7 linked regions of the Homo sapiens genome follow. The protein of the gene in region 1 interacts with the protein of each later gene in a pairwise test. Each region holds a gene or a part of one and is shown in the gene's direction. Other genes may lie near its edges.

Region 1 (4,083 bases):
TTAGTCCTCATGTTAGTCTCATTTTCATGAGAATTTCTTTACTTCAGACTTTGATAACCGTGAAGAAAGAACAAGATAGAAGGTGAGCTGTTTGGCTTAGTAATTTTCTACACCTACTAGAGCGGGACTGGGAAAAATATATTTGTAAATGCAGTTCTTGCTGTCACTGTCTCTCTGGGGTTTTACAATCCATATTCCTGCCAGCATCTAACGTCTTTTCAAATTCTTAATGTCTATAACAGGACATGATGACATTCATCGTTTTGACTTGTTGCAGCAAAAGATGGTTAGCAGGATTGGAATGTTGCTTTCATTCTAGACTTTTCCTTGAGAACTGCTAGCCCCGTATTGCTAGCCAGATCTCATGGATGATCTGACTTGGGTTTCATCTGTCCAGGTTGGCAGTGGAATCCCTCTGACCGGCCCTCCTTTGCTGAAATCCACCAAGCCTTTGAAACAATGTTCCAGGAATCCAGTATCTCAGACGGTAAAGTACCCATCCCGGGGTACCTGCAGTGGGGTGAAAGGGCAGCCATGTGGGACTGCAGCCTGGGTCATTCGGTTCACTTCCTGGTGAAAGTTCACAGACCAGCCTGTCCTGAGACCAGAAAGCTGGGCAGAGGTGTGGAGTATTGTGCTTTCTTGTCTGCTGCAGCCCTGCAGAGTTCTAAGAAATGCTAAGGGCTGTTTCTCCGGTATCCACGTGCCTTTTCTTTAGTTGTATGCAGATGAGCACTGTTACCTTACAAAGAAAGAGAACCACCACACCAAGCCAACACCAGTACTGATGGCTGCTGGATTTTTGTTTCTGTCCCTGTATGATTCTTAGAAGTGGAAAAGGAGCTGGGGAAACAAGGCGTCCGTGGGGCTGTGAGTACCTTGCTGCAGGCCCCAGAGCTGCCCACCAAGACGAGGACCTCCAGGAGAGCTGCAGAGCACAGAGACACCACTGACGTGCCTGAGATGCCTCACTCCAAGGGCCAGGGAGAGAGCGGTAAGTCCCCCGCTTCCCCCAACCCCACTGCTCTTCCCTTCCCTGCCAGAGGCTACATTCAGGCCATCATAGGCCAACGGGAAGCTGTGAATGGAGCCCGCACAGAAGGGCAGCCATGGCCTTTGTCAATGGTTCAGCTTCGGAAGGAGGAAGGTTCTCCTCTCCCCACCTGCCTCCTATCCCCTCCCTCTGAGAGTCCCCGAGGAGCATAGGCTCCAGCAGTGAGTTCAGTCCTGTAGGCAGAGGTGCTTCTGAAGCCCGCCAAGGAGCTAGCCCATCTCCCACCTATTACCCGCGGCATCTGTGGTTGCTGTCTCAGAGCAGATTCAACAATAGTAAGCACCAGGCTGCGTGACAAGCAGCTCACGGTGAAGGCACTGATGTGAGAAGCTCGCTGCAGCCAGGTGGAACCAGGACACGCACATGGACAGAACCCGTGTCCTGGTGGTCTCTGGGAAGAGCATCTTTCTGGTGCCATTGCCTAGGCGAGCAAGGGAGTTGGGATCAGCTCAGGAGGGGGTCTCAAGACACTAGCAAAAATAATAATGGCCAACATTTATGTAGTGTGCCTACTACAGGCCAGGCTCTGTTCTATGTTCATGGTTGACCCCCAGAACCAGCAGTCCAGGTTCTGCTGCAGACCAGCTGAACAAAAGCATTGAGGGGTGTATTAGTCTGTTTTCATGCTGCTAATAAAGGTATACCCAAGACTGGGTAATTTATAAAGGAAAGAGGTTTCACTGACTCACAGTTCCACATGGCTGGGGAGGCCTCACAATCATGGCTGAAGGTGAATGAGGAGCAAGGTCACATCTTACTTGGCGGCAGGCAAGAGAGCTTGTGCAGGGGAAGTCCGCTTTATAAAACCATCAGATCTCGTGAGACTTATTCACTACCACGAGAATGTGGGAGAAACCTCCCCATGATTCATTGATCTCCACCTGACCCCACCGTTGACACGTGGGGCTTATTACAATTCAAGGTGAGATTTGGGTGGGGACTCAGCCAACCCATATTGGAGGTGGGGGGTAGGCCAAGCATCTGGGTTCACAGAGGATCCTGGGGATGGCAATGGTGGACTCCATTCTAATGGACTGCAGACTGGGTACATGTGAAGGGACTGGACAAAGCCCTACTTCTTGAAGATTTATGGTGGGATGTTTACTGACAGCAGAATCTATAAACCTGAGTTTTATCACGTACTCTCATTAGTAAAAAAAAAACAAAAAAAAACAGAACATGCAGCCCATATATATGGTATATAAAGTACGTATGTCCACTACTGTAGGAGTAGAGTGCGTATGTTATGTACCAAAACGCACATTTAAAAGGCTTGCATGCTAAATAAGTCCAAATTTGCAATACTTCCCGCCCCGCTGGGCCATCTCACTCACCTACTTGGAGGTTATGGCGTATAGACTCTCCAGAATCTTCCACCCTTCCTCCTCTTATCGGTTTTCCTGATTTCAGGTGGCTGAGCAGTAGGGAGGAGAGGCCTCTGGGAACGCTGTGCTTATTAAGAACCCAGTGATCAGCAGTCATGTTCATTTACGCCCGTCAGTTTCATCTGAGGGGTATTTTGATAGTGATCTCTTGGTGAGCCGAGGGTGTCAATTAACTGCTCAGTGCTGAAACTGAGTGGTGCATAATTCATTGCAATTTCACTCTCCTGGCCTCCTTCCACTAGATTAAAGTTTTGGGAGGGCTTTGGTGTTCCCTGATTCAGATGTCCCGCGTGCTGCCTTGGGTTCTGATAAATGCATACTGGTACCTCTGTTGAGTTACAGGTGCCAACAGAAAACCTCTTCTTGCAAGCTGACCTCTGAGGGAGAATTCTGTTACTCACTAGCAGGAGCTTGGCAACACCAAAAAGATTTCCTTTTTTTTTTGAGATGGAGTCTCACTCTGTTGCCAGGCTGGAGTGCAATGGCATGATACCAGCTCACTGCAACCTCCACCTCCTGGGTTCAAGCGATTCTCCTGCCTCATCCTCCTGAGTAGCTGGGACTACAGGCGTGTGCCACCACACCCAGCTAATTTTTGCATTTTTTAGTAGAGACGGGGTTTCATCATGTTGGCCAGGATGGTCTCTATCTCTTGACCTCATGATCCGCCCACCTCAGCCTCCCAAAGTGCTGGGATGACAGGCTTGAGCCACCGCGCCTGGCTACCAGAAAGATTTCTTATGAGCTATGATTCATATTTAAAGAGTGCCCATTAAAAAACTGTTGGCCGGGCGTGGTGGCTCACACCTGTAATCCCAGCACTTTAGGAGGCCGAGGTCAGCGAATCACAAGGTCAGGCTCCCGTGGCACAAGCTGGGGGCTGCCCCCACCCCATGCTCCCCAGAGGAGCACCCAAGCGTCTGGGCTCAGACAGGCCTGGATCTGATAACCGGCTCTGATGCCACCATCCCTGAGGCCAGGCAAGTCCCAGCCGGGCTACAGCACTGTTGTGAGAATGCAGATGAGGTTGTAAAGGTGAAGCACGTGTCACGCTTCTCTCAATAAAGCCATCATTGCTGTTAGGATTGTCATTAGGAAAGGCTTTGGGCCGGGTGCAGTGGCTCATGCCTGTAATCCCAGCACTTTGGGAGGCCAAGGCGGGTGGATCACCTGAGGTCAGGAGTTTGAGACCAGCCTAACCAACATGGTGAAACCCCGTCTCTACTAAAAATACAAAATTAGCCAGGCGTGGTAGCGGGTGCCTATAGTCCTAGCTACTTGGGAGGCTGAGGCAAGAGAACCATTTGAACCTGGGAGGCGGAGGTTGCAGTGAGCTGAGATCGTGCCACTGCACTCCAGCGTAGGCAACAAGCGAGACTCCAACTCAAAAAAAAAAAAAAACCACACACACGCTTTGGTCTCTTTCCCTGAAGATGGGAACAAAAAGCTGGACGGCCCTGGCCTCTTCATCCCTGCACTGGTTTACTTGAAGGCAGCAGCCCCCCACCCACCCACATCACTCTCTAGTGAGTATAAAAACGATGACAAGGCCAAGCAAAGGGTCAAAACCTGTGGCTCTCCTGCCAGCCAGCTAGCCGAGAGGCCTATGAGGAGCTCTGGGAATAAGGGGCTGTGTCCCACAGT
Region 2 (4,083 bases), on another chromosome or scaffold:
TCCTGCCTCCCTTCCCACCCTACCCCACAAAATTGACCATTTTCTTGAAGGAAAATTATCTACTTTTATACTTATTTACACATTTTTCCTGTTAAGGTCTGAGGTTTCAACCTTATATGTTCTATATTTGCAGTGGTCAGATATGTGTAGTGTACCTTCAGAAAACTCTCAAAAGATTTCTTTATATATATTCCTTTCTTTCTGAAGGACAGGAAATTTACGTAGGAAATGTTTAGGAGCCCACAGCTATGAAACAACTCTACCATTTATTGACAGTCTTACTTGGTGAAAGTTGAGAAGGGAACTAATAAGGAGGTAGCTATCTTGGTTTTAATCATTACTCCCACATTTACGTGATAGGATGAAGTTGTTTTGCATCGTAGGTACTACAATGTTCTTCATTTTTCATATGTGAATTACTTTTTTAATAGACGGTGGATTCAAGCCAGTTATAATTACGGCACCAGTAAGTGCAAAGGTTGCAGACGGAGACTTTGTTACTCTGTCCTGCAATGCCAGTGGGCTGCCGGTTCCGGTCATTCGTTGGTATGACAGCCATGGATTGATAACCAGCCATCCATCTCAAGTCCTGAGATCGAAATCCCGAAAATCACAGTTATCAAGACCTGAGGGCTTGAACCTGGAGCCTGTGTACTTCGTCCTGTCCCAAGCTGGTGCAAGCTCTCTCCATATTCAGGCTGTGACTCAGGAACATGCGGGGAAATACATCTGCGAAGCTGCAAATGAACATGGTACCACACAGGCAGAAGCATCTCTCATGGTTGGTGAGTTGCCATTATTATTTATTTTTAGTTGAGTAATTTCCTTTTATAATAGAAGATAAAGTGATTTGAAATATGTTATTTTAATGAATCCAGCAATCTCTCTATATTTTTTCCTGATGACAGTGAAATGTAGAACTGTATTTCTTGGTATTTCACTTTATGTGAATCACATGAATTTTGGTCTCTGTTTCTGATGTGTTTGTTAAGATTGTAGGTGCAATACAGAAAGCTCTCATTTGGGAGCAGGCCCAGAATATAACCTGTCTTTGAGATGAATGCTTTTGGTTTTCTAAGCTACCGAAAATGATATTGCAGACATTTTTTATGCCCTTGATAACTACAGTATTGGGTCTAAAGGACTGGCCTTCATTGAGAATGTAGAGTTGTGGTACTATTAAGTAATACCTGTATGTATATATTCCCTGTGTCTTATCCAAAGTTATTTTCTAATGGGATGTATAATATTAATTCTTCATATTTTACTGATTTTTTGTGATGATGACTTAAAAACTATATATGATTTTTGATGTACTGGTATATAGACTATTAATATTCATGGAAATGGACTCAAACTTGACTTAATTCAAATTCAGACCTTCCATCAGTAGGCATTTAGGGCAGCTTTCCCCAACAGCTAGTCAGTTGGGTGTAGATTGTCATCTTATTTGTCTTGTGAGAGGCCCAACATCAAAGGCAGTACTGCCTTTAGTTTTGGGTAACTGAGGTCTCTGACCCTGGCCTCTGCTTTAAGGGGCTTAGCGTGGCTCTCTTCTGCCTGGGGCCATGGTCCCACAGGTTAAAGAGCCCATAGGGTCGAGGAGCAGTGCTTATGCTGAGCTCAGAGCCCACATTCCTCCTTCTAGACAGGTCTGGGGCTCCAGCATTTCCTGCTTCAGTGAGTTCACAGTCTGGTCCCCACAGTTCCTCTCCCCTGGCCCATCCGCCACAGTCTGGACCACACGACCAGTGTGTGGGCACCCTTAGCCAGAGCAGTGGTCAACGGGGGGTCCTTGGCAGAGGAGTGATGGTTGAAATAAAAAAGAGTTCGTATGTGCACATACGATTTCCCTTCACGTGCAAACAAGGACGCCCTTGCTCTGAATGAAGCTGGAGGCGGAGGAGAAGTGGTGGAGACCAGGGACTTCCCCTTATCCTCTTGTGCATGTTAGAGGTGGGAGAGATGTGGAGGCTGAGCACGTGGGCTGTGTCAGAATCCTGGCTCTGCCACTTAGCAGCTTTGTAACCCAAGGGCAAATCACTGCACTTCTCTGTTCTGTTTCCTCATCTGTGTAACAGGTATAGTGAAGGTGCCCCACTCATAGGGTTGATGTGAGAATCCAAGGAGTTAATGCGTAGTAAGTGCTTAGAATGGTGTCTGGCAATAGAAAGCCCTCCATTGATACTAAGTATAAAGTTATGATTGTTACTGTCTAATTATTATTAAATTACAGTGATCTCTTGTGGCAGTGTTAAGGGAAGGAAGAAATAGTTACTGATTTTAGAAACATTAAGAATCCTTAAATGAAGAAAGTAGTTCAGTGTTACATAAATTTGCACCTATAAATGAATGTGCGTGTGTGTTTATATTTCTATTCCTCTAGGCAAAAATAAGAGTGGCTCTGCTCGAAATTGTTAACTGCATGACAGGTGTAGTTGCAGGAGCTCCTTGGGTAGAATTTAGCTGAAGCGATTATGTGAATACAGGGTGTAGAGAGACAGATGTCATAGTTTTATGGCTGATGAAACTAGATATTTTGTCGAACTTCCTCACCTTAAATATGAGAAATCGGAAGCCCTTTGAAGTTATGTGAACTAACTTTAGAAGATCTTTAAGATTCCCCTGTGCTCCAGGATTTTATGTCTCGATAAATACTACTTTTATGTATGGTAACCCCATCAGCTGTATTCTACCAAAGAGGTCCTACGTTGTCTTTTTTTAATTTTCTAGTATAATTATTAAGATCCAACCGAGTTTATTAAAACTCAAAACAATACATGACAACTCACTTCTTTGCATAGGAATCTGAGCCTTATGAAATTCTAGCATCCTGACAAGTCATTTGACTACTGTACTGTAAAGGGGAGAGCAAGCTAGGTTAGAGAGAGAGATAACTCTCTCCCCAGCCTTTTGTTTTTTCCAGAGACTTTGGGTTTTTGAGGTCCTGGATGTACAAATATTTGTAGAGTGTGTGGTACTCTTTAAAACTATAATGAGAGTTGGTGCGGGTTTCCTAAATAGTTTGGGTTGTGAGTTGCTGGCAGCAGTGGTCACAGTGGGAGCATCTTTGACAGATATGGTTGTACTCCCTCCCTGTTTAATTAGTTTCCACTTAGAGTCATTAAATTTATTTACATTGCCGTAGTTGCATCAATCTCTTTTCCGATTCAAAAAACATTCTACCTTAAAAGATGCTAGATGCCTGTTCTACCCATTTCATAGAGTTCTGAAGATAAGTTGAGATAATACATGCAAAAACACCGGGGAAGTACTGGTAAGGTCTTTTCAGTTGTATTGAGTGTATCTCCCAAGTGCCCAGATTATATCATTGAAACAGAAGAAGAAAGTTAATTGAATCCCCCTTTTAATAAAAGTTCTGGAGAGGTCTCATTGCATCTTAAGTCTTACAGAAATGGAATTTTGATACTCAGACAGTGGAGAAGCTGCAGCATTAACGTTTTTCTCATGCTTCTGTATGAGGCATGTGGCATTTAAACTCTTTTACAGCCAGATCCCACTTCCCAGTGGAAAACTGCCCGGAGGATCCACTAAACTTCTAATGATAAAAAGGTCCTTCTCCACTACCTCAAGCCACAGTTAATTATCTCCACTTGCCGAGTCCTTCTGTCTGCATTAGCAGGCACCAGATCACACCCTGAACATCAGTCCGCAGTCTGACTCACTAGATAAACACTGCTGTTCCAGGAGCAATATTTTGAAGTTGTCTCAGTGAACTTAATTAGTTTTCTTCTACATTATTTCCTCACTAGCTTCTTGTTTTCTCTGATGGAGGATGCTTCTGGGACACCCTTTCTCTCTTTTAAACTAACAGAGAACTAACCTTACACTGTCAGTCCTGTTTTCTGTTGGTTCTCTACTGCAGTGCAGCCCTTCTCCCAAAAACACACCCATCTTTTACCAGGAATCTGACTTCATTTTGGACATAAAAGTAGTACGTTGTTTGCTCTGCACTCTTCCTCCACAAAAGGAGTGAAAAATAGAATTTTCTGTTGCCAGTATTAATAGCACTTTAGAGAAACCAAGCCGTCACTCCTTAGGTTTTATTGTGCTGGCAGTATA
Region 3 (4,083 bases), on another chromosome or scaffold:
GTTTGCTGTGTGTGGGTGCCATGTGCGTGTATATGTGGGTGCGTGTGTGCTACGTGTGACTGTGTGTGCATGAGTTATATTTGTGTGTGAGTATTGTGTGTGTGCATATATGTGGGTGTGTATGCCATGTGTGACTGTGTGTGCATGTGGTGTATTTATGTGTAGGAGTGCGTGTGTGTGTGTCTGTGAGGAGGGGCACATACCCTTTCTCCCAGGGTGTGGCAGCAGGCAGGTTGGGGGTGGAGTGGGCTCTGCACTTGTCCTGCCGCCCAGGGGGGCTGAAGGCTGGAGGGTGGGGCAGAGGGGACAGGCTTCGTCACCCTCCCTCCCTGCTCATTCATTAACATGATGTGTGTTTATGGAGAGCTGACTTGTACCAGGCACGGTTCTGGGAGCCAGGGACACAGGCTGGTTGCGGTGACAGGTAAACAGACAGCTACACAACCGCACGTGTGACTGAGACGCGGGCGAGCGGAAGTCCAGGGCTGGGATGGAGAAAGGGGCCTCCTGGGGACGGCCCGCGTGGGCCTTGCTGGGAAGTGCCAGGTTCGTGTGATGCCTGTCTATGTGGCTGCTGATGAGGGCGCCCGTGGGACTGCAGGCATGGGGCCGGGTTAGGTGTGAGCCCAGGTGAGCCGCTGCCACTCTCAATGAAAGGCGTCCCCAATGTCGCTGGCGTCAACTCTAAGCACCCCAGGCGGGTTTCAGTGTCACTGCGAGGCACATGCCTGCGTCCGGGAGTCATGTCCTTCCTCTGAAACTCCAGCCTGCCTGGATGTCCTGTGTCTGGTCCTCAGCTCTCCTGCCAGGCGGGGAGAGGGGAGGTCAGGAGGATTTGGGGGCTGGAGGAGAGGGTGCCAGTGCACAGCCCGCTCGGGGCCACACGCCCCCAGACACCCTGTGTGAGATGTGAGGTGTGGCTCCTTTTGTTCTGTCCCCACCGGCAGGCCAGGCAGCAGCGTTCAACGTGACCTTCCGGCGGGCCAAGGGCTACCCCATCGACCTGTACTATCTGATGGACCTCTCCTACTCCATGCTTGATGACCTCAGGAATGTCAAGAAGCTAGGTGGCGACCTGCTCCGGGCCCTCAACGAGATCACCGAGTCCGGCCGCATTGGTGAGGCCCAGGCACTGCAGGACAAAACCCAGTCCTTTCCCAGACCCTGGCCACTCCTGCCTGTGGCCCACACAACTCCTCGCACTCAGGTCCCCAGGGTAGATCTGGGGGCCCCAGATGCAGGTCCCCCCAGGGCATCCACAGGGCTGCAGTCGGCCTGCCTCCCTGCCAGGGGCCACACCCAGTCCCTGGCTCCCCAACACTTGTAGACATTGTCCAGCCCTCCACTTCCCCTTCCATCTTCTACTTCCTTTATTTATTTCTTGGTATGTTTAAAAGACAAAATTCTGACAGTGCCAATTATTAAACATTAAAGACCACAACACATATAGACGGCACAGCGACGGCAGCACTGAAGAAACCACACAGCAAGCTCTGCTGGGCCAAGGGCTCCGCTCTACACCAGCACTGCCTTGCCACAGAGCAGGTCTCCAGCACACGTGTGTGTCAGTCACAGCGCATGTCTTCCCCGCCGGCCGTGGCTTCTCACATCGGCACTCTGCCACCTTCCCTACATGCGGGGATGCACACATGCACGATAACACACACACACACAAGCAAATGCATGCTCACACAAATGCACGCTCACACACAAATGCACGCTCATGCACGTGAATGCACGCTCACACACAAATGCATGTTCACACATGCAATGCACACTCACACACAAATGCATGCTCAAACGCAAATGCACGCTCACACATGCGAATGCACACTCACACATGAATGTATCCTCACATGCACAAATGGATGCTCACACACGCGAATGCATGCTCACACACAAAAGCACACCCAAACTCAAATGCACACACACGTGAATGCATGCTCACACACGTGAATGTATGCTCACACACATGCTCAAACACACAAATGCATGCTCTCACATGTGAATGTATGCTCACACATGAATGTATGCTCACACGCAAATGCATGCTCACACACGCGAATGTATGCTCACATGCACAAATGCACGCTCACACACGTGAATGCACGCTCACACACAAATGCATGCTCACACACATGAATGCATGCTCACACTTGCATGTGCACACACATGCACACACAGTCATACACACGTGCAAGACCACATGTGCACACAGACATGCTCACATGCACACTCATGATCACCCATGTATGTCTTCACTCACATGTATAAATCGTACATAAACACACATGCCCACATATGTACCTGGTCACCTACGTGAACTAGGTGTGTCCATACCTGAACATGCTCACATGCATACAGGAATACGTGCACACACAGTTGTGCTACGCATGTACACACTCATGTTTACACATGCAGATGGCTGCACACACAGATACACATACGCACCTGTTCACATGCCCACATGTATACCTGGTCACACACATACATGCAGGAACACACATGCATACACTTATGCTCATCCATGTACATTGCACACTCCCAGGTTCACACACACGCCCACATACGTTCACATGTGTGCTTGCACAACGCACATGCTCACACACACACTCCACATGTGCCATCTTGCTTTCTCCACCTCCCTGCTAGGAGAGAGGAAACAGGCTTGCCCTCGTGCCCCTTTGAAGCTGGCCCTCCCACCTGGGCCCAGCCTGCCACCTCCCCAGCCCCTCCATGTGCCCTGCAGGCTTCGGGTCCTTCGTGGACAAGACCGTGCTGCCGTTCGTGAACACGCACCCTGATAAGCTGCGAAACCCATGCCCCAACAAGGAGAAAGAGTGCCAGCCCCCGTTTGCCTTCAGGCACGTGCTGAAGCTGACCAACAACTCCAACCAGTTTCAGACCGAGGTCGGGAAGCAGCTGATTTCCGGAAACCTGGATGCACCCGAGGGTGGGCTGGACGCCATGATGCAGGTCGCCGCCTGCCCGGTGAGGCCGCTGCCCCTGCTTGGGTCCCCACGTTCCCCCAGTGTGGGGGGCTCTGTCAGGCGCTGTGTGGGGGCAGGGGGGTACCCTGGCCGGCAGGTCGTCTGAGGGACTCCAGCCTGGGCCTGGGGAGAGCAGCTCCTCACCCTGCTGCTGCCCATGCAGGAAAGGGCAGGAGGAAGGGAGGGTGACCACGAGGGCTCGAAAATCATGCGCTGATTTCATTGTTTGCTGTGAGTTAAATTTGTGACCCTGGGCAAACCTTATGAAGCCTAAACATTTTGCGAGCGGCCAAGGGTGGAACAGGGCCGCTAGGCAGCAGGTCCCGTGGTTCCTGGGGTGGAACCACCCTCCTCCCTCCAGGCCGGGTGGGCGCTGGCTGCCCAGTGTGTGTCGCTCTCCACGTCCCGCCCACCCAGTTTGTGACTGTCAGCCTAACAGAGCAGCCACAGTCCCTGGGCCATGTTGAGGCCACATGCACTGTCCTCCCCTCACAACCCACCTTAGCTCTCCTGCTTCCCTGCAGTCCCAGCGCAGACACACTGCTCACGAGTGTGAGGTCACAGCCTAGGACACGCACGGCCCCCACATGCGCCTGCCAGGGGCTGTCAATGGTGGACTCAAGGCCTGCTGGGCCCCTCAGGCTCGTTTTCCTCCATGTTGCACTCGTTCTGCGTGTGGCCCACACGTCTGCGAGGGTTTTTCCCCTTGGGGATGGTTTCCTGAGGGTTTGTTCCCAGCTCTGAAGTGCAGGGACCGCAGCCGTGTCTCTCTCCTTGCCTTTCCACACGTGCCTCCACTCCCTGCGCCTCACATGTGCACGGGGTGTTTGAGGGCCGTTGTCTCCTCCTGGGCGTGGCGTCTGGGGGAACACAGCTGGGTCCCTGAGACCCAGGGGAAAGGGGGACCCACACCAGCCTCCGGGCCACCCCACCAGCTCTGCATCGTCTCCTCTGCTCCAGAGGGCCGGGTCTGGGAAACTGAGGCAGGTAACCCTGCCCCCCACGCCTTCTTCTCAGGAGGAAATCGGCTGGCGCAACGTCACGCGGCTGCTGGTGTTTGCCACTGATGACGGCTTCCATTTCGCGGGCGACG
Region 4 (3,648 bases), on another chromosome or scaffold:
TGTGGGCGTGACCTGGGCCCAGGATGGGAGTGGGGGCAAGATTTAGATTGGTTGGTGCCAGGGGCGGAGTCAGAACCTGAGAATAGTGTGGATGCGAGGTCTGGTTTTGGGGACGGACCCGACACCCAGATTAGGTGAATGGCTGAGGTAGGCCAAGACCCCTATGCCAAGGGTGGCACGTGAATGTTGGCGTGGGACTGGGGCTGGTTTCCAGGGGCGGGGCCTAAGAATCTAAAACCCAGTGCAGTAATCAGGAGGTGGGTATTGGAGGGTTCCCCTAGCAGCCGGTGCGTTGAGGGAGGGGCAGCCTTCTCTCTGAGCCCCTCCCTGTGTTCTCTTTCCCAGGAGACGAACTCACCAAGCTGGGCGAGGAGGATGAGCAGGGCTGGTGCCGTGGGCGGCTGGACAGCGGGCAGCTGGGCCTCTACCCTGCCAACTACGTGGAGGCTATCTAGAGGCCCCCTCCCTCCATACTCCCGTCACTCCTCCCCACTGCCGCCCCTCCCCTCCCACTCTCGTCTCCTTCCCCTCGCCATAGAGTTCCAGACATATTTTCCGATCAAGCTTTTATTTTTTTAAAAGTCAAAACAGAACAAAACAAAGTATGCAGAGACAGAGCATTTGCAGGGCCACCTGGAGGCTGGGGTGCTGGGGCTTGGGGTGGCCCCAGGGTAGGTAACAGTCTTAGGACTTAGCCCAACATCACAACATCTGCTCTTCGGGTTCCACCAAAGAGTCTCCTGAGCCCTGAGGGATGGATGTCTCCTGACCCTTCCACCCCGCCTCACTCCCTCCGTCCCACTCCACTCCAGGCTGCCGGCACCTGCCCCATTCCCTGGCCTGGTTTCCTAACCTCTTCTTCCTCCCCTGCCCTGCTTCCCTTCCTCCACCACCCTGCTCTCAAAGGCCTCCTCTCCAGACCCCTGGAAGGGAGGCTTCCCCATCTTTAGTTTTCCACTCTGCCCCGGGGAGCACCCTTCTACTCCTAGCCACGTCCCTTGGGACCGGTGGGACTGGAGGAGGAACGGTCACCCTCCTCCCCCATGGAGGTTTCCAGGGGTCCCCCAGACATGAAAGAGGGGTGAGCTGGAGGAAGTCATGGTGTCACTGGGGTACAGGAGGGTGAATGAAGGGCATGCAGGCCCTCAGCCCGGGCTGTGCCAGCCCTCCCAGCCCCAGGCCCATCTGAGGGACCAAGACGCTGTTACGCAGGCCCTTCTTTCCAGCTATCAGCACTTTCAGCATCGGCTCTTCAGCAGATCCAAACCCCCTCAGCAACTTGCAGAGGACCTGTCCCCTCTCAAAAGTCCCCTGGCCTAGGGTGGGGACCCCCAAACCTACGGCAAAGCCAGCAACAGTAGCAGCCTGCTCCCATTTGCTGGGGAGGAGATCATCTTGTTCCCCTGGCCCCCCACTCTCCCTCCATGTCCATCCAAAAACCATAAAATCACTGGGTTCCACATCAGCCTCCATGAGGCCAAGCCTTGTACCTGCAAGGCTCTTGGCCTAACCATTCCTCTGTCCTCTTCTCTGGCCTGCCTGGGGAGCCCGTGAAGGCCGCACGGGTGCCTCCAGCCTGAGACATCAGGGGAGAGCCTGCAGCTGAGTTCAGCAGAAAGGAGGAATCCTGGCCCTCAGGAAGAAGATAGTCACATGTTTTTCTTCCTTGTCCCCACGGCCCCCAGAACAACATTCTCCCTGCTGGCAGCCCTTCCATGTCTCCAAACCTGGGTCAGAGTGAAAGGACCTTTGGGGGTGGGTGGGAGCAAAGGGCCCACCTGCTGGTTGGTGAAAGCAGTGGTGCCGGAGTGCTAGGTACCGCACGAGAGGGTGCGGGGGCTTGGGAAGCAGACCAGGGTTGGACAAAACCCCATGAGGGCGGGGAGCTGGAAGAAAAGTCTCTTGGGGACCTCTGGGGCAAGGAGCTGAGAAGTCCTGCAGCACCAGGTGAGACTTGCTTACAGTGGATGCCACTTCTAGGCCTCTGGACCGCAGATGCCCTCCTCCCTCCTGCACACCTGGCCTCCTGGGCCTCCAGGTAAAGAGAGAGAGCCAGCCCAGCCCTGTTTCCCCTCAGTCCTCCTTTGCTCCTGCTGCTTCTCCCAACAGCCCACTGTTAGGAGGTAGTAGACCCCAGCCTCAAGGCTCTGACCTTCTTCATGTGGGCACAGAGGGTCCTGACACTCTGGCAGGGCCTGAGCTGGGGCAGGCCTCCCTCAGGGCCAGGGGCGATGGCACCCCGGGGACAGGCAGACCTCCTTCCTGCCGTCAGCACCCCCTTCCTTATCACTGTCTGGTCTCCGAGCTTCGGCTGCAGCCTGAGGTGTGTCCTGGGCTCCTCAGAGCCTGAAGCAAGCTTTTGGAAGCCTGCAGTCCTCCCAGCTCCAGTGCAGAAGCCTCTCTCTCCAGCCTTTCCCCAGGCAGGAGTTGGGGTTGGGGGCCTCTGTCCCTCATCGCTTACCTTGGAAAGGTGGGAAGCTGGCAATCTGCACCTTGGGGCCTGGGCTCCCCCTCTCTGTGCCAGCGGCTTCCCAGCACCTGGGAGGGGCTGCAGCCCCAGCTGGACTCCAGCCTGTCCCTCTTAGCACTCTAGCTGCCCACTCCAGGGCAGGGACTCGAAACCCCCTCCGTCCTGAGCAGCCACCTCCAGGGCCCTGTTTGGGACCACTCTCTCAGTCCCCAGGTCCTCAGGGCCCCAGAGCGGGAGGGTCTCCTACCTGGAAGTCCCCCTGAGCTCCAGGGCCCAGCCCTACCTGCCAGTGCTGGTGTCAGGGCACTCAACACCGAGTGTGGGGGCCACGCCCCTTGCCATGCCCACGGCCTCCTCCTGTAGCTCCTGCCTGCACCCACGATGCTGCACGGGCCCGCCCTGGTGGGGCTCGGCGAGTAATGTGTTTTGTCCCCAGTTAACCACCATTCTGCGGCCTGGTTCTGCAAGGAACCAGGGCTGCCCCACCGCCCGCCGTCTGCCGCCCTAGGCTTCCTGACTCCATTAGTTCCGACACTTGTGAAACTCCGAGAAGTGCTGTGGTCTCAGCAATGCACCTGTTTTGTACATGATTGTGTAATTTAAAGGTATATAAATACAAATATATATATATATCAGTTGTGATTGTATGACTGTGGATAAAATCCAGAACTGTGTCAACCTGGCTGCGCATTGTCATCTTGAGTCTGTGCACCTTCAGTCCTGGGGGTTTCTGAGCCCTCTGAGAGCTATTTGTGGTTGGGATGCAGGGGGGTAGGGGTGGTGCCCGAGCAGGACTGGGTGCTGTCCTGGCCCACCATCCACAGACTAGGCCACTGAGAGCCGGTCCCTTCGCCCTGCGGGGGCCTGGGTCTTGTCTGGACTGGGGAGGGTGATACTGGAGGCTCCTGGAGCTCTGGCCCATTCAGGTTCCGGGTGCCTGGTGACAGGCCCTGACCAGGAGAGCTGGGGCATTCAGGGTTCCACATTCATGGATCAAGAGTGAATGAGGTCCTCAAATAGGTTTTGCTTTTTAAAGCAGAATTCTAAAAGTGACTGCTGAGGCCCACGGTTCCTGGCTGTCCACAGTGCCAAGCTCCCTGTGCGGTGATGTTGGGCTGTGCCATGCCTTCCTGCGTCTCGCCTGGCTCTGAATGCATTTCTGTGTGGGACCCGTGGGA
Region 5 (4,083 bases), on another chromosome or scaffold:
GGGGACCAGGTTTCTCCGTTGTCTGGAACCGATGGTCTTCCTGGGAATTGACGTTAGGGAGGATTTTTGTCTTCGTGAATTAATTTTGAGTGTGCTGCAGCTGGAGCAGCAGAACACCTTGATTCTATGCCTGGCCCCATCTTCCCCGATGGAATGAAAAACAAATGCTCTGTGGCTCAGGTCTCCCAAGCCAGAGAGTGGGGATTCCTGACATTCCTGCTTTAAAGAGAAAAGGCTGGAATAAACATGTATGTTTGACTGTTAACTGTATGTGGTTGTTCACCAGCCGTATACTGTGTGCCCTAGTAGAGTTTACAAACTAGAAGAGCTATGGGCATGGTAGTATCTGTGGACAGAAACTGATGTCCCTAGAGCTAAAGCCTCTGTCATTCTCTCCACCCTAGGCCTGGTCTCCAAGTCCTCTCCTAAGAAGCCTCGTGGACGTAACATCTTCAAGGCCCTTTTCTGCTGTTTTCGCGCCCAGCATGTTGGCCAGTCAAGTTCCTCCACTGAGCTCGCTGCGTATAAGGAGGAAGCAAACACCATTGCTAAGGTAGGTGGGTTGGGGTGGTAAGATGCCAGCAATGAAGGGACTGTTAATGGGAGATCCCTGCAGACGATGGCAACCGGACAAGGAAGCTTTGCCTGAAGTTGCAAAGATTTCTGGCTGAGAGGGGGCCCTTCCTCCATCCTTCCATAAGTAGTGTATTTCCTTTCTGTTCCTTCCCTTTTGCGGTGTGGGCCATTCACATGTCACTGTGGTTTCTGAGGGCCCCTGTGATCCTGATCCTTCCAGGTTCCAGGAACTAGGCAAGGTGCTTTGCATATATTGTCTCATGTGATCCAGCCAGCAGCCCTGTAAGGAGATCACAGGATTCACACTTTGCAGATATGGATTTATGTAGAGGGTTTATGTAGCACCTGAAGAGTTCATGGTTAATAAATAGTAGTGTCAGGATTTGAACTTAGATTTCTCTGGCTCTAAAGCCTGTGTTGTTGTTCTCAATTATGCAAAGCTAACTTCCAAGTTACCTGAGTTACAGGGAACCAAGGAATTGAAACTCTACCATGCTGTTAATAACTCCTGTCAGCAGTTCTCTCCCATACTCATGCAAGGCATTTGGGATTTTGTGGGTATTTTTTATATGTCTAGTATTTCACAGGTGGGGCCAGCCCCGACCAACAAAAATTATTCTGCCCCAAAAGCCAGTGGTACTTCTCTGAAACACTGAGGTCTGGTTGTCCTTCCTTTTTCTCAAGACCAGGCTGAAGACATACATCAGTGAAAAATCACTGCATTTTGCAGTAGGGGAAATGGTTAAATAAAATACAACATGACAGTATTACTGAGTGATTAGCTTTTACAGAGTTCTCAATAACATGGAGAAGTATTGAGTTGCAACATTAAGTAAAAAGGCAGAGTGTGTAATTGTATAGCATTCTGGAAAAAGTCTGCGGACACAGATTTGAAGGCAGTACACTGAATGCCACATTGTTTATCTAAGTGCTAGGATTTTAATTTTTCTTCAAAGTTTTCATTAAGAACACTTAAAACCATAACTTTTTTTTTTTTTTTTTTGAGATGGAGTTTCGCTCTTGTTGCTCAGGCTGGAGTGCAATGGCGTGCGATCTTGGCTCACCGCAACCTCCGCCTCCCGGGTTCAAGCGATTCTCCTGCCTCAGTCTCCCGAGTAGCTGGGATTACAGGCATGTGCCACCACGACCGGCTAATTTTGTATTTTTAGTAGAGACGGAGTTTCTCCATGTTGATCAGGCTGGTCTCGAACTCCTGACCTCAGGTGATCCGCGCGCCTCGGCCTCCCAAAGTGCTGGGATTACAGGCATGAGCCACTGCGCCCGGCGGTCATAACATTTGTATTAGCAAAAATTGGGGTGGGGGGCTTGCTGATCTCTCTGCACTCCCTCCCCTCACATTTTGGGTACCTACAATGTGGCTTACTTGATGTTTTATAGGGCTTGTTCCCCCACATAACCCCTAAGGAGGGCATGGAAAACAACATGTTCTCAAGGAGAAGCCTGAGTTTAAGGACTTAGCGAGAGTTTGCCACTGTGAGGAATTCAGACTTTGGTTCTGCCTCTGACTCTGTGTCCCTGAATCAGTTACTTGAGTTCCCTGTTCCTCACTTTGTCCAGTTGAGAGGCAGTGGCAGCCGAGAACAGGGACACTTGTCTTCTCCATCCTTCATCAGGCCTAATGTGGAAAGGAAGCTCTAGCCTTTCCCTTTTCCTGCCCCACTCCTAGGAAAAGTCACTTTTGACATGGTAGGAGCTTCCAGGTGGCTGGGTCTGGGGGAGAAAGTTGCCCTCCAGGCTTAAGACAGAAGCAGTGGGTTTGGATGGGGTGGGAAAGGCAGTGAGATGGCACTGACCACCTCCTTCTCTTCCTCAGTCGGATCTGCTCCAGTGTCTCCAGTACCAGTTCTACCAGGTACGTGACTCTGGCCTGGTAAGTACTCAGAAGCCAGGATCCTGTGATCCCTGCCAGCTCCACGGGCAGGGTGATGTGCATAGTCCTTGGTGCCTAGCCAGCCACCTCCCTGACCTGGGAAGCCATTTGTTCCCCATACTTGTTGAGGGCCTGCTATGTGCAAGGCATTAGATTTTAGGGGACAGCTGGTGCTCCATGCCCTCTTCCCACAGCTGCTGTCCATCCCACACCTGCCCTGGCCACCACCTCCAATGTCCAGATCACTTAATAGTCCCACTGGGAGGCTGAAACCAAGGAAACAACTCCACCTCCTTTCTTCCTGGCCTTTAAGTGGTGCCTATCCTGGGTTGGTGATTGTGTCTCCACAAACAACCCAGCTCTTCCCATAATTATGCCAAGGGGTACAATTGGGCTTTCTTGGTAGGCAGATCTCAGCAACCTGGCTTGGTTTTAGATCCCAGGGACCTGCCTGCTCCCAGAGGTGACAGAGGAAGATCAAGGAAGGATCTGTGTGGTCATTGACCTCGATGAAACCCTTGTGCATAGCTCCTTTAAGGTAACTCAATGTCTGGAACCCTTCCTACCTTTATCTTGGGCCTTCTTGTGAATCTGGCAACAGATGTGTAAGGCAGCCTAAAGGTGAGGAAAGAAGAGTGATTAGAAGGGAAAAGGCCAGGCCTCTGGCATTTTGGCCACCCTGTGTCACAGGTATCTAGAGGCCCCACTGAAGAATGTTGAGTAGGAACCCTGTGTGTTCCACCAGGGCTGCTATCTCCAGTCACTCCCAACAGGCTGCATCTGCCCCCGAGCCACATAGCACAGAAAGCCAGCCACGAGGGCTCTGTACAGGGCAGGCCTAAAAGAGTGGTTGGATCACCTTTGGCCCTTGCCCCTGCTTGTCTCCTCAGGAAACTCAGGCCCCAAAACTCTCAGCCCAGGTAGAATTTGTCAGAGTGGAGGTGCTAAGGAGTAGGGAAAACCAGAATGGGGTATCACATCTTGAACTAGGGTGAGAACCCCTTAATGAGGTGGCCAGAGGCACTTCCAGGAGTCTTTAAGACCTGTTTCTCCCCACCCACCTAGGGGTATGGTGGGGGCCTCATGTTTCTTTGCCACCATGCTGACAGCATTAACTTTTCTGCCTTCCAGCCAATCAACAATGCTGACTTCATAGTGCCTATAGAGATTGAGGGGACCACTCACCAGGTGAGCTGCCAGCCAGACCACACCCAGCCCAGAGGGTGGGGGGTCTGCCTTCTGCCTCACCTGTACTGGGGTCCTCCACCCATCTCAGGGCTTGGGTTCTGTCAGTTGATCCCTTTTCTATAACTCCAGCCTCCCCTTTTTATTGGTATCTTTCACTCAAGGCTTTCTCACCTTAAAAAAAGAGTTTCAGCCCCATATCCCACCCAGCTGTCTCCCTTGTTTTCTCTTTGCAACCAAGCTGTTTAAAAGAATAGTTTACATTTTATTTAATAATAATAATAGCTATCGTTTGTTAACCACCATCCCCTCACGTGGCCAGCACTGTTAAATGATTTATTACATTTCTCTGTTCCTTAAGAAAGGTATCTATACCTGTTAAGATACCTTAACCAGGTATCTCTTTGCCTGTAACAGGCAGGGAAATCAGT
Region 6 (4,558 bases), on another chromosome or scaffold:
CTGTTTTAACATAAATTTTAGAATGAACTATTTGATAAGAAATGAACTTTTTCCTGGCTCTGCCACCAGTGAGCTTTATGCTTGGGCTGCTTACCTGATTGTGATGTTTCCCACCTATTTTCCAAAAGGCAATGGGAATGGCTACCACTCTTACCAGGGCAATTACTAGACTTAACTATAGTCTGAAGAGTTAAAAATAGATACATGTGGCTGGGATTGAGTTGCTGGTTCCGATTCCGAGCTGCTGGGTCCTTCCCCCTCTCCATTACCCATTTCTCCAAGGAACTCTTCCCAATGCCAGACCCATGACTGGGGATGCCACAGCTGCTGTCACTTTTTCAGGAGAAGAGAAGCTGCTGCAGGATGCCCTGCCTGATTGGGAGCTTATGAGGCCTCAAGAGGAGGAGCACTCTCTGCTCTCCCACAAGAAGCGAACAGCTATTGTGCCTGCCCTGACAGCACAGGCTGGACATTGCAGATGCCTGCAATTAGTATCCTGCCACCAGGTTCTGTCTGGCCAGACTCCAAATCACAGGTTGGAAATAGGCTTTTGTGTTTAACAAATATCACTGTGATTAAAAAACAATAGGCATATCCCTTTAGCCCCATAGGTTCCTAGGCCTATAGCATGGGGCATGGCTAGAAGAAGCCCAGAGCAAGATCCTCTAACATGGGCTCTTGCCCTGGTCTGAGGGCAGTGATGAGTAAACTTATAACTCTAGAGATGTTCAAGCTGCAGGAACAACTGTTCTCCATTGAGGTGGAAGTTTTGCTCATCATTCTTTATAGGTTACAGGTTTGCACTGGATGAATGACCCAGTTGCAGCCAGCCCCTTGTCAGCTCAATGCCATTTCCATTAGCCATTGCTGTGCTACAGGCATTATATACTATCATGTTTAACGATATTTTTTCTATAGACCAAATTTTTGACTCTATTAAAACAGCCATATGTTACAGACCCTGAAACATTTTCATTCCATAGGACACTAAAAGTGTCCTAGAAGACCTTCCTCATCCTGTGACATGATTCCTTCCCAAAGCATTCTCTCTGTTCTTTGGATTTAAAAGAGTAATAATAAAAATATACGGCCCTCAATGTGTAAAGCTATTAATAAGGGTTTCCAGATTTCAACCTAGAGAAGAGGAAACATAAATTAAGAGCACAGAAGTCAAAGAATTGTGTAGCTTTGATTGCAGGCAGTTTATCTCAATGGTGTAGTGGGAAGAACCCAGCCTTTGTGATCAAGCAAACAGAACTGCTGCTATTTAGCTGTCTAATCTTGGACAATATATTTAGCCTCTCTGAGCCTCAGATTTCTTTTTTCTTTTTTTTCTTTTTCCTTTGAGACAGGGTCTTTCTCTGTTGCCCAGGATGGAGTATAGTGGCACATATCAGGGTTCACTGCAACCTCGACCTCCCAGGCTCAAGCAATCTTCCTGGCTCAGCCTCCCAAGTAGCTGGGAACACAGGCATGCACCACCGAGCCCAGCTAGTTTTTAAAGTTTTTTGTAGAGATGGGGTCTCACTGTGTTGCCCAGGCTAGTCTCTATCTCCTGGGCTCAAGTGATTCTCTTGCCCTGGCCTCCCAAAGTTCTAGGATTACAGGCATGAGCCACTGTGCCTGGCCTTCAGTTTTCTTATTTGTTGGAATCAACTTAGTTAACAAATACTTATCAAGTTCTCACTGTGTGCTGGGCTGTATGTCAGGCATTGAGTATATAGCTGTAAATAAGACAGGCATGGCTCCTACCGTCATGGAAATTACAGTCTAGCAGGATCAAGTTAAATGAAATAATATAATGTCAAAGTTCTTTCACAAAGTTGGTATTCAATAAATGCTAATCCCCTTCCACTTCCCTTCAAATATACGATCATTATATATTCTGACACTCAAACATAAGATGGCCACAGACAATTTCATACATACAAGAATTGTGTTGGGAGCCCAGACACCCATAGTATAAGGGAACTCTTCAGCATTATGTCTCACGAAACTTAGATCAGTGTGTGGTCTTGATTTAAATCCATGTAACCAAGGGTTTCTATTTATGGTCAACAATGAATCCTTATTTTTGGTGGACTTTAAGGAATTATACAAATATTGCCTCATTGATGCTTTCAGACCATTTGTGAAGTGAATGAGAATAGGTATTATTATTATTAAACCCATTTTACAGATGAGGAAGCGGATGGAAGCACATTCTTCGGGGCCTTCTTTGTTCTCTAGTCCTAGTCTGCACAAAGGAAGCACTGGATAGACGCTGTGTGCACATTGACCGTTCTGGCAACTTGGAAAGGAGAGGTACCCCGCGTTAGCAAAAACAGATATTGACTCAGGGTTGCATTGCGGCCGCTCAGCTCTTGCCTTCTCCCTCATTTCTTCAGGTGGGTGAGAAATGGGCGACTGGAGTTTCCTGGGGAACATCTTGGAGGAGGTGAATGAGCACTCCACCGTCATCGGCAGAGTCTGGCTCACCGTGCTTTTCATCTTCCGGATCCTCATCCTTGGCACGGCCGCAGAGTTCGTGTGGGGGGATGAGCAATCCGACTTCGTGTGCAACACCCAGCAGCCTGGCTGCGAGAACGTCTGCTACGACGAGGCCTTTCCCATCTCCCACATTCGCCTCTGGGTGCTGCAGATCATCTTCGTCTCCACCCCGTCCCTGATGTACGTGGGGCACGCGGTGCACTACGTCCGCATGGAGGAGAAGCGCAAAAGCCGCGAGGCGGAGGAGCTGGGCCAGCAGGCGGGGACTAACGGCGGCCCGGACCAGGGCAGCGTCAAGAAGAGCAGCGGCAGCAAAGGCACTAAGAAGTTCCGGCTGGAGGGGACCCTGCTGAGGACCTACATCTGCCACATCATCTTCAAGACCCTCTTTGAAGTGGGCTTCATCGTGGGCCACTACTTCCTGTACGGGTTCCGGATCCTGCCTCTGTACCGCTGCAGCCGGTGGCCCTGCCCCAATGTGGTGGACTGCTTCGTGTCCCGGCCCACGGAGAAAACCATCTTCATCCTGTTCATGTTGTCTGTGGCCTCTGTGTCCCTATTCCTCAACGTGATGGAGTTGGGCCACCTGGGCCTGAAGGGGATCCGGTCTGCCTTGAAGAGGCCTGTAGAGCAGCCCCTGGGGGAGATTCCTGAGAAATCCCTCCACTCCATTGCTGTCTCCTCCATCCAGAAAGCCAAGGGCTATCAGCTCCTAGAAGAAGAGAAAATCGTTTCCCACTATTTCCCCTTGACCGAGGTTGGGATGGTGGAGACCAGCCCACTGCCTGCCAAGCCTTTCAATCAGTTCGAGGAGAAGATCAGCACAGGACCCCTGGGGGACTTGTCCCGGGGCTACCAAGAGACACTGCCTTCCTACGCTCAGGTGGGGGCACAAGAAGTGGAGGGCGAGGGGCCGCCTGCAGAGGAGGGAGCCGAACCCGAGGTGGGAGAGAAGAAGGAGGAAGCAGAGAGGCTGACCACGGAGGAGCAGGAGAAGGTGGCCGTGCCAGAGGGGGAGAAAGTAGAGACCCCCGGAGTGGATAAGGAGGGTGAAAAAGAAGAGCCGCAGTCGGAGAAGGTGTCAAAGCAAGGGCTGCCAGCTGAGAAGACACCTTCACTCTGTCCAGAGCTGACAACAGATGATGCCAGACCCCTGAGCAGGCTAAGCAAAGCCAGCAGCCGAGCCAGGTCAGACGATCTAACCGTATGAAGTGACGCCAAAGAAAAAAAAAAAAACGCCCAAGCTTACGTAGGGCAAGATGAAAGGAACAGGTGCCAACATGATCTGAATCTTCTGTCTCCTGTCCTCCCACCAGCCTCTGGTTGGACAGGCACTGCAGCAGGGCAGTGCACTCCAGGCAACTCTAGGAAACAGTCTTTCCCACATCCAGCATAAGGGCTACCAAGATAAACCCATCGACCCACTAAAGTTCCCCAGTCTCATAGGACTACCCCGCTCCTCCAACCCCAGCAGCTATGGGTGACTCTTCTTTCATCCCCATTTCTCCATAGAAACCCTTAAATCGGAATTGGGGTTGCCTCATAGCCTTTTACCCATCTTGTCTCAAGCTCACTAAGCCAGAATCTATCATCCCAGCATTTCTGAAGCAGATACCATGTGACCATATTTCAGGGATCCAGACTCAAAAGCCTACAGAATACAGACAGGTGACATAAGTTGCAAGACAGGCCTGTTCTAATGCAAGGGAGAGAATGGGGCTGTGAAAGTTGGAAAGCAGGGGCAGCTGCTGCTCACTTCCAGACAATGAGTACCATGAAGTGTTACCTGGTCTTTCTGATTTTTCAAGGGAAGCCAGAAATCCAACCTTTTTTTTAGACAGGCTCTCTCTTGCCCAGGCTGGGGTGCAGTGGCACAATCTCAGCTCACTGCAGCCTCAACCTCCCAAGCTCAAGTGATCCTCTCACCTTAGCCTCCCAAGTAGCTGGGACTATAGGCGCACACCACCACACCCGGCTAATTTTTGTATTTTTTGTACAGATGGCGTTTCACCATGTTGCCTAGGCTGATCTCAAACTCCTGGGTTCAAGTGATCCACCCACCTCAGCC
Region 7 (4,083 bases), on another chromosome or scaffold:
TGGTTTATGCCACCTCTTTCCATATACATAGAGTAAATAAAATGCTGATTTAATTTAGATTCCTCAGAACTGTTTCTTGCTGCTTCCTGTATTTGACTAGTTCTGAAATTAAACAACAACAGTGTAAAACAGTCAATCTAATTATAAAAACAATAGTTATAAATCAAAACGTTAATATACATATCCAGGCCAAAAAAATTTCTAATGTATCCAGCACTGAAAGTAAAGTAAAGAACTTTTTTTTGTTGTTGTTGTGAGACAGAGTCTCAGTCACCCAGGGTTGAGTGCAGTGGTGCGATCTTGGCTCACTGCAACCTCCACCTCCCAGATTCAAGTGATTCTCCTGCCTCAGCCTCCCAAGTAGCTGGGACTACAGGCACGTGCCACCATGCCTGGCTAATTTTTTGTGTTTTTAGTAGAGATGGGGTTTCACTGTGTTAGCCAGGATGGTCTCGATCTCCTGACCTCATGACCCGCCCGCCTCGGCCTCCCAAAGTGCTGGGATCATAGGCGTGAGCCACCACACCTGGCCAAGAACTTTTTGCAATGATGGAAATGTTCTGTATCTGTGCTAACCAGTATGGTAGCCACCAGCCATGTACTGAGCATTCAAAATGTGGCTATTATGACTAAAAATAATTGAATTTTAAATTTTAATTAAAATTTAAATAGCTCATAATGGTTAGTGATTTTCTCACTGGACAGTGCCCATTCAGAGGTTGAAATATTAACTTTTCAAAACAGTTAAGTAGCTTGTGGGGATATATTTAGATAATATTAGAATATTGCTGTAATAAAATGATATATCTTACATTCTAAGATGCTACTATTGATGATTGACTTAGGCAAATGCTTCCACTTCTTATGTGCTCATCTTTTCTTGCCTGTTAGTGGATTTGTAAGAATAGGAGTAACAGTCCTGCACCTCAATACTAACCAAAGATCTGTAGATTTGCCGTGGCCATTATACTTAAAAATTCATTATTCTTTTTACCCTTTGTTAGCTGGTTTTGCTATAGTATAGTAGTAATTCATTGAATGATGCTTTTTGAACTTTTTAGTGCAAGAAACTTTAAAATAAGTTACAGAAATTGAACTTTAAGGCCACTAGGTTTTGTTTTTTTTTTTTTTTTTTTGAGATGGAGTCTCGCTCTCGCCCAGGCTGGAGTGCAGTGGCACGATCTCGGCTCACTGCAAGCTCCGCCTCCCAGATTCATGCCATTCTCCTGCCTCAGCCTCCTAAGTTGCTGGGACCACATGCCTGGCTAATTTTTTTTGTATTTTTAGTGGAGATGGGGTTTCACCATGTTAGCCAGGATGGAATTGATCTCCTGACCTCGTGATCCACCCACCTTGGCCTCCCAAAGTGCTGGGATTACAGGCGTGAGCCACCGTGCCCAGCCTAAGGCCATTAGGTTTTAAGAAAATGTTGTAAATCACTTGAGGATTGAGGATATTCTTTTAATATTTAGTTTGTGATTTCAGGACTTAGTATTCTTATACCACACTAGATTATTAGTAATGCTAAGTTCATGTAAAAGAAAACCATAGTTCTCTACATCCCCCCAAAATTAGAATAATAATCCTCTGTTTTAAAAATCGGTGCCCTCTAGGCCAGGCACAGTGGCTCACACCTGTAATACCAGCACTTTGGGAGGTCGAGGTGGGCGGATCACTTGAGGTCAGGAGTTTGAGACCAAGCCTGGTCAACATCGTGAAACCCCATCTCTACAAAAATACAAAAATTAGCCAGGTGTGGTGGCACATACCTGTAATCCCAGCTACTCAGGAGGCCGAGGCACAAGAATCGCTTGAACCCATGGGCGGAGGTTGCAGCGAGCCGAAATCACACTACTGCACTCCAGCCTGGACAACAGCGAGACTCTGTCTCAAAAAAAAAAAAAAAAAAATTGATGCCTTCTATAGTTGAGAACTATAGGTATGAGTGGAATCTATAGCCAAGTTGCTCTGCAACATAAAAATTAATGATCTTTCTCATTATAATCAAATGTAAATAAGTGAGTTTTTTTTTCCTTGCTAAAGTATGGGACTATATTGGAAAAAGATGTTCTGGTTGTGGAGAAAGACATCAGTGGTTCTGATAATTCAAACAGATGGTGTTTCTTTTGGCTGGGTTAGATCTCATGTCCTGAGGAACCCTATCAGGGAGGGTAGGTCATCTCCAAATCTTGAATAGTAAGTGGCCCTTTCACAGTGCCGTATCAGTAACCATGAAGGTAAAGAGATTGTGGACTTTGGTAATACTCACTGTAAAATCACAGTGGTAGACAGTCATCAGAGACCTATATATGCATACAAGTTATTCAGCACCAACACCAGGAGATATCCTGTATTTAGGATGTAAAACTTTTTCTAGAGTGTTTTTTGAAATTTTGCTTTCAATTGACTTGGTTAACAAATTATTGTTTCCTGTGGATCTCTAAATTTGAGGCCCTAATGGAAACAAACTAGAATCAAGCTACAATCATTTCTGTTATATCAGCCAATCAGAAGAGTTATTTGTTCTGTCTGGCTATATGTTGTTAAATTCTATATGGTAATGTGAAAAAATACTTCAGCTTAGAGCACCTCTCCCTCCCCTACATACCTACCCACACATTTCTCAGAGGAGTTCTTATTGCCACAGCCTTTGGAGTAAAACAGCTCAGAGCTTGAACCTGGCTCTGTTGCATAATAGCTGTAGCTCCTCAGTTTTCATCTATAAAATGAAAATAACGGAGATGAGGATTAAGGGAAATTATATACACAGCACTTTGCAGCCAAATACTGGATACAAGGTAAGCACTCGATCAATGGTATGCTGAATTATTTTATCCTACATTAATGTATTTGAAAAAAACATAATTGGGGATGATTAATATGTCATTACAGATGTTTTTCCCCTTTTCCCTAGGATGAAAATGGGATAAATAGACCAGTCTGTTCCTATGTTAAACCACTTCGAGCTGGACGGCTTCTTGATACTCCAAGGCAAGCAGCAAGATTTGTTAATGTCCTTGGTTATGAACGAGCCCCTGTTATTGGAGGAGGAGGTAAACAGGAGCAGTGGTGCACTCTGCTGGCCTTTCTCTGTAGAAACAAGGTATTATACACACATAATAGAATTAAGTAGCAGTATATCATAGTTACTCTGAATTTGTAATCCATTTGTAAAAGAATGCCTTAGAAAAATGCACATATAGTCAACCCTCTGTACCCACAGGTTCTGTATCTGTAGATTCAACCAACTGCAGATCAAAAATACTTACAAAAGTAAAAAATTACAATAATAAAAAATAGTACAAATTAAAAAATGGTGTGTAACAACGTTTATGTAGCATTTACATTGTATTGAGATTTTTAAACAATTTAGAGGTGATTTAAAGTATATAGGAGGATGTGCTTAGGTTATATATAAAATACTATACCATTTTGGCTGGCCGCAGTGGCTCATGCCTGTATCCCAGCATTTTGGGAGGCTGAGGCAGGTGGATCACCTGAGGTCAGGAGTTCAAGACCAGTCTGGGCAACATGGTGAAACCCTATCTCTACTAAAATACAAAAAATTATCTGGGCATGGTGTCGTGTGCCTGTAATCCCAGCTACTCAGGAGGCTGAGGCAGGAGAATCACTTGGACCCTGGAGGCGGAGGTTGCAGTGAGCTGAGATCGCACCATTGCACTCTAGCCTGAGGACAGAGCAAGACACGTCTCAAAAAAAAAAAAAATACTATTTTATATAAGCCTTGAGTATCCACGGATTTTGTTTTGCAAGGGTCCTGGAACTAACCGCTTTGGGGTGCTATCAGCTTGACCACGTCAGAACCTTGTTCTGTTTTTCATAACATTTAAATATCAATACACAAAAAACTCAGCATCTTTATTTTCTCATGTAGTTTCTTATTTATTGTGATTTCTGTGATGTAGGGACCTACAAGTACTAAAATGTCAGAAATCAAGTTGCAGAATGAATTAGGAACAGCACCAGGACCAGACCATGGCTTTCTGGTACTACTGATGTGTTGCAATTTGCTCAGATAATACATCTTTAAAAAAGAGAAAATAAGGCTGGGCGTGGTGGCTC

What was found.
Region 2: the proteins of ABL1 (region 1) and CDON interact in a two-hybrid assay, tested with the Homo sapiens proteins (one study listed by BioGRID).
Region 3: the proteins of ABL1 (region 1) and ITGB2 interact in binary tests that used the Homo sapiens proteins (3 or more experiments, as listed by UniProt).
Region 4: the proteins of ABL1 (region 1) and PACSIN1 interact in a two-hybrid assay, tested with the Homo sapiens proteins (one large-scale study listed by IntAct).
Region 5: the proteins of ABL1 (region 1) and CTDSP2 interact in a two-hybrid assay, tested with the Homo sapiens proteins (one large-scale study listed by IntAct).
Region 6: the proteins of ABL1 (region 1) and GJA8 interact in binary tests that used the Homo sapiens proteins (3 or more experiments, as listed by UniProt).
Region 7: the proteins of ABL1 (region 1) and CEP76 interact in a two-hybrid assay, tested with the Homo sapiens proteins (one large-scale study listed by IntAct).

Annotation. Positions count from the first base shown.
Region 1 is NC_000009.12:130,879,671-130,883,753, forward strand, and holds part of ABL1 (tyrosine-protein kinase ABL1), read left to right. Parts: intron 1-397; coding exon 398-487; intron 488-829; coding exon 830-994; intron 995-4,083. UniProt on the Homo sapiens protein: Non-receptor tyrosine-protein kinase that plays a role in many key processes linked to cell growth and survival such as cytoskeleton remodeling in response to extracellular stimuli, cell motility and adhesion, receptor endocytosis, autophagy, DNA damage response and apoptosis.
Region 2 is NC_000011.10:126,007,043-126,011,125, reverse strand, and holds part of CDON (cell adhesion molecule-related/down-regulated by oncogenes isoform 2 precursor), read left to right. Parts: intron 1-431; coding exon 432-785; intron 786-4,083. UniProt on the Homo sapiens protein: Component of a cell-surface receptor complex that mediates cell-cell interactions between muscle precursor cells. Promotes differentiation of myogenic cells.
Region 3 is NC_000021.9:44,900,400-44,904,482, reverse strand, and holds part of ITGB2 (integrin beta-2 isoform 1 precursor), read left to right. Parts: intron 1-947; coding exon 948-1,118; intron 1,119-2,749; coding exon 2,750-2,991; intron 2,992-4,007; coding exon 4,008-4,083.
Region 4 is NC_000006.12:34,532,076-34,535,723, forward strand, and holds the end of PACSIN1 (protein kinase C and casein kinase substrate in neurons protein 1), read left to right. Parts: intron 1-345; coding exon 346-455; 3' UTR 456-3,148; downstream 3,149-3,648. UniProt on the Homo sapiens protein: Plays a role in the reorganization of the microtubule cytoskeleton via its interaction with MAPT; this decreases microtubule stability and inhibits MAPT-induced microtubule polymerization.
Region 5 is NC_000012.12:57,825,918-57,830,000, reverse strand, and holds part of CTDSP2 (carboxy-terminal domain RNA polymerase II polypeptide A small phosphatase 2), read left to right. Parts: intron 1-404; coding exon 405-553; intron 554-2,410; coding exon 2,411-2,449; coding exon of another isoform or gene 2,450-2,467; intron 2,468-2,903; coding exon 2,904-3,005; intron 3,006-3,598; coding exon 3,599-3,655; intron 3,656-4,083. UniProt on the Homo sapiens protein: Preferentially catalyzes the dephosphorylation of 'Ser-5' within the tandem 7 residue repeats in the C-terminal domain (CTD) of the largest RNA polymerase II subunit POLR2A.
Region 6 is NC_000001.11:147,905,558-147,910,115, forward strand, and holds the end of GJA8 (gap junction alpha-8 protein), read left to right. Parts: intron 1-1,598; exon of another isoform or gene 1,599-2,387; 5' UTR 2,388-2,398; coding exon 2,399-3,700; 3' UTR 3,701-3,712; downstream 3,713-4,558.
Region 7 is NC_000018.10:12,685,282-12,689,364, reverse strand, and holds part of CEP76 (centrosomal protein of 76 kDa), read left to right. Parts: intron 1-2,914; coding exon 2,915-3,103; intron 3,104-4,083. UniProt on the Homo sapiens protein: Centrosomal protein involved in regulation of centriole duplication. Required to limit centriole duplication to once per cell cycle by preventing centriole reduplication.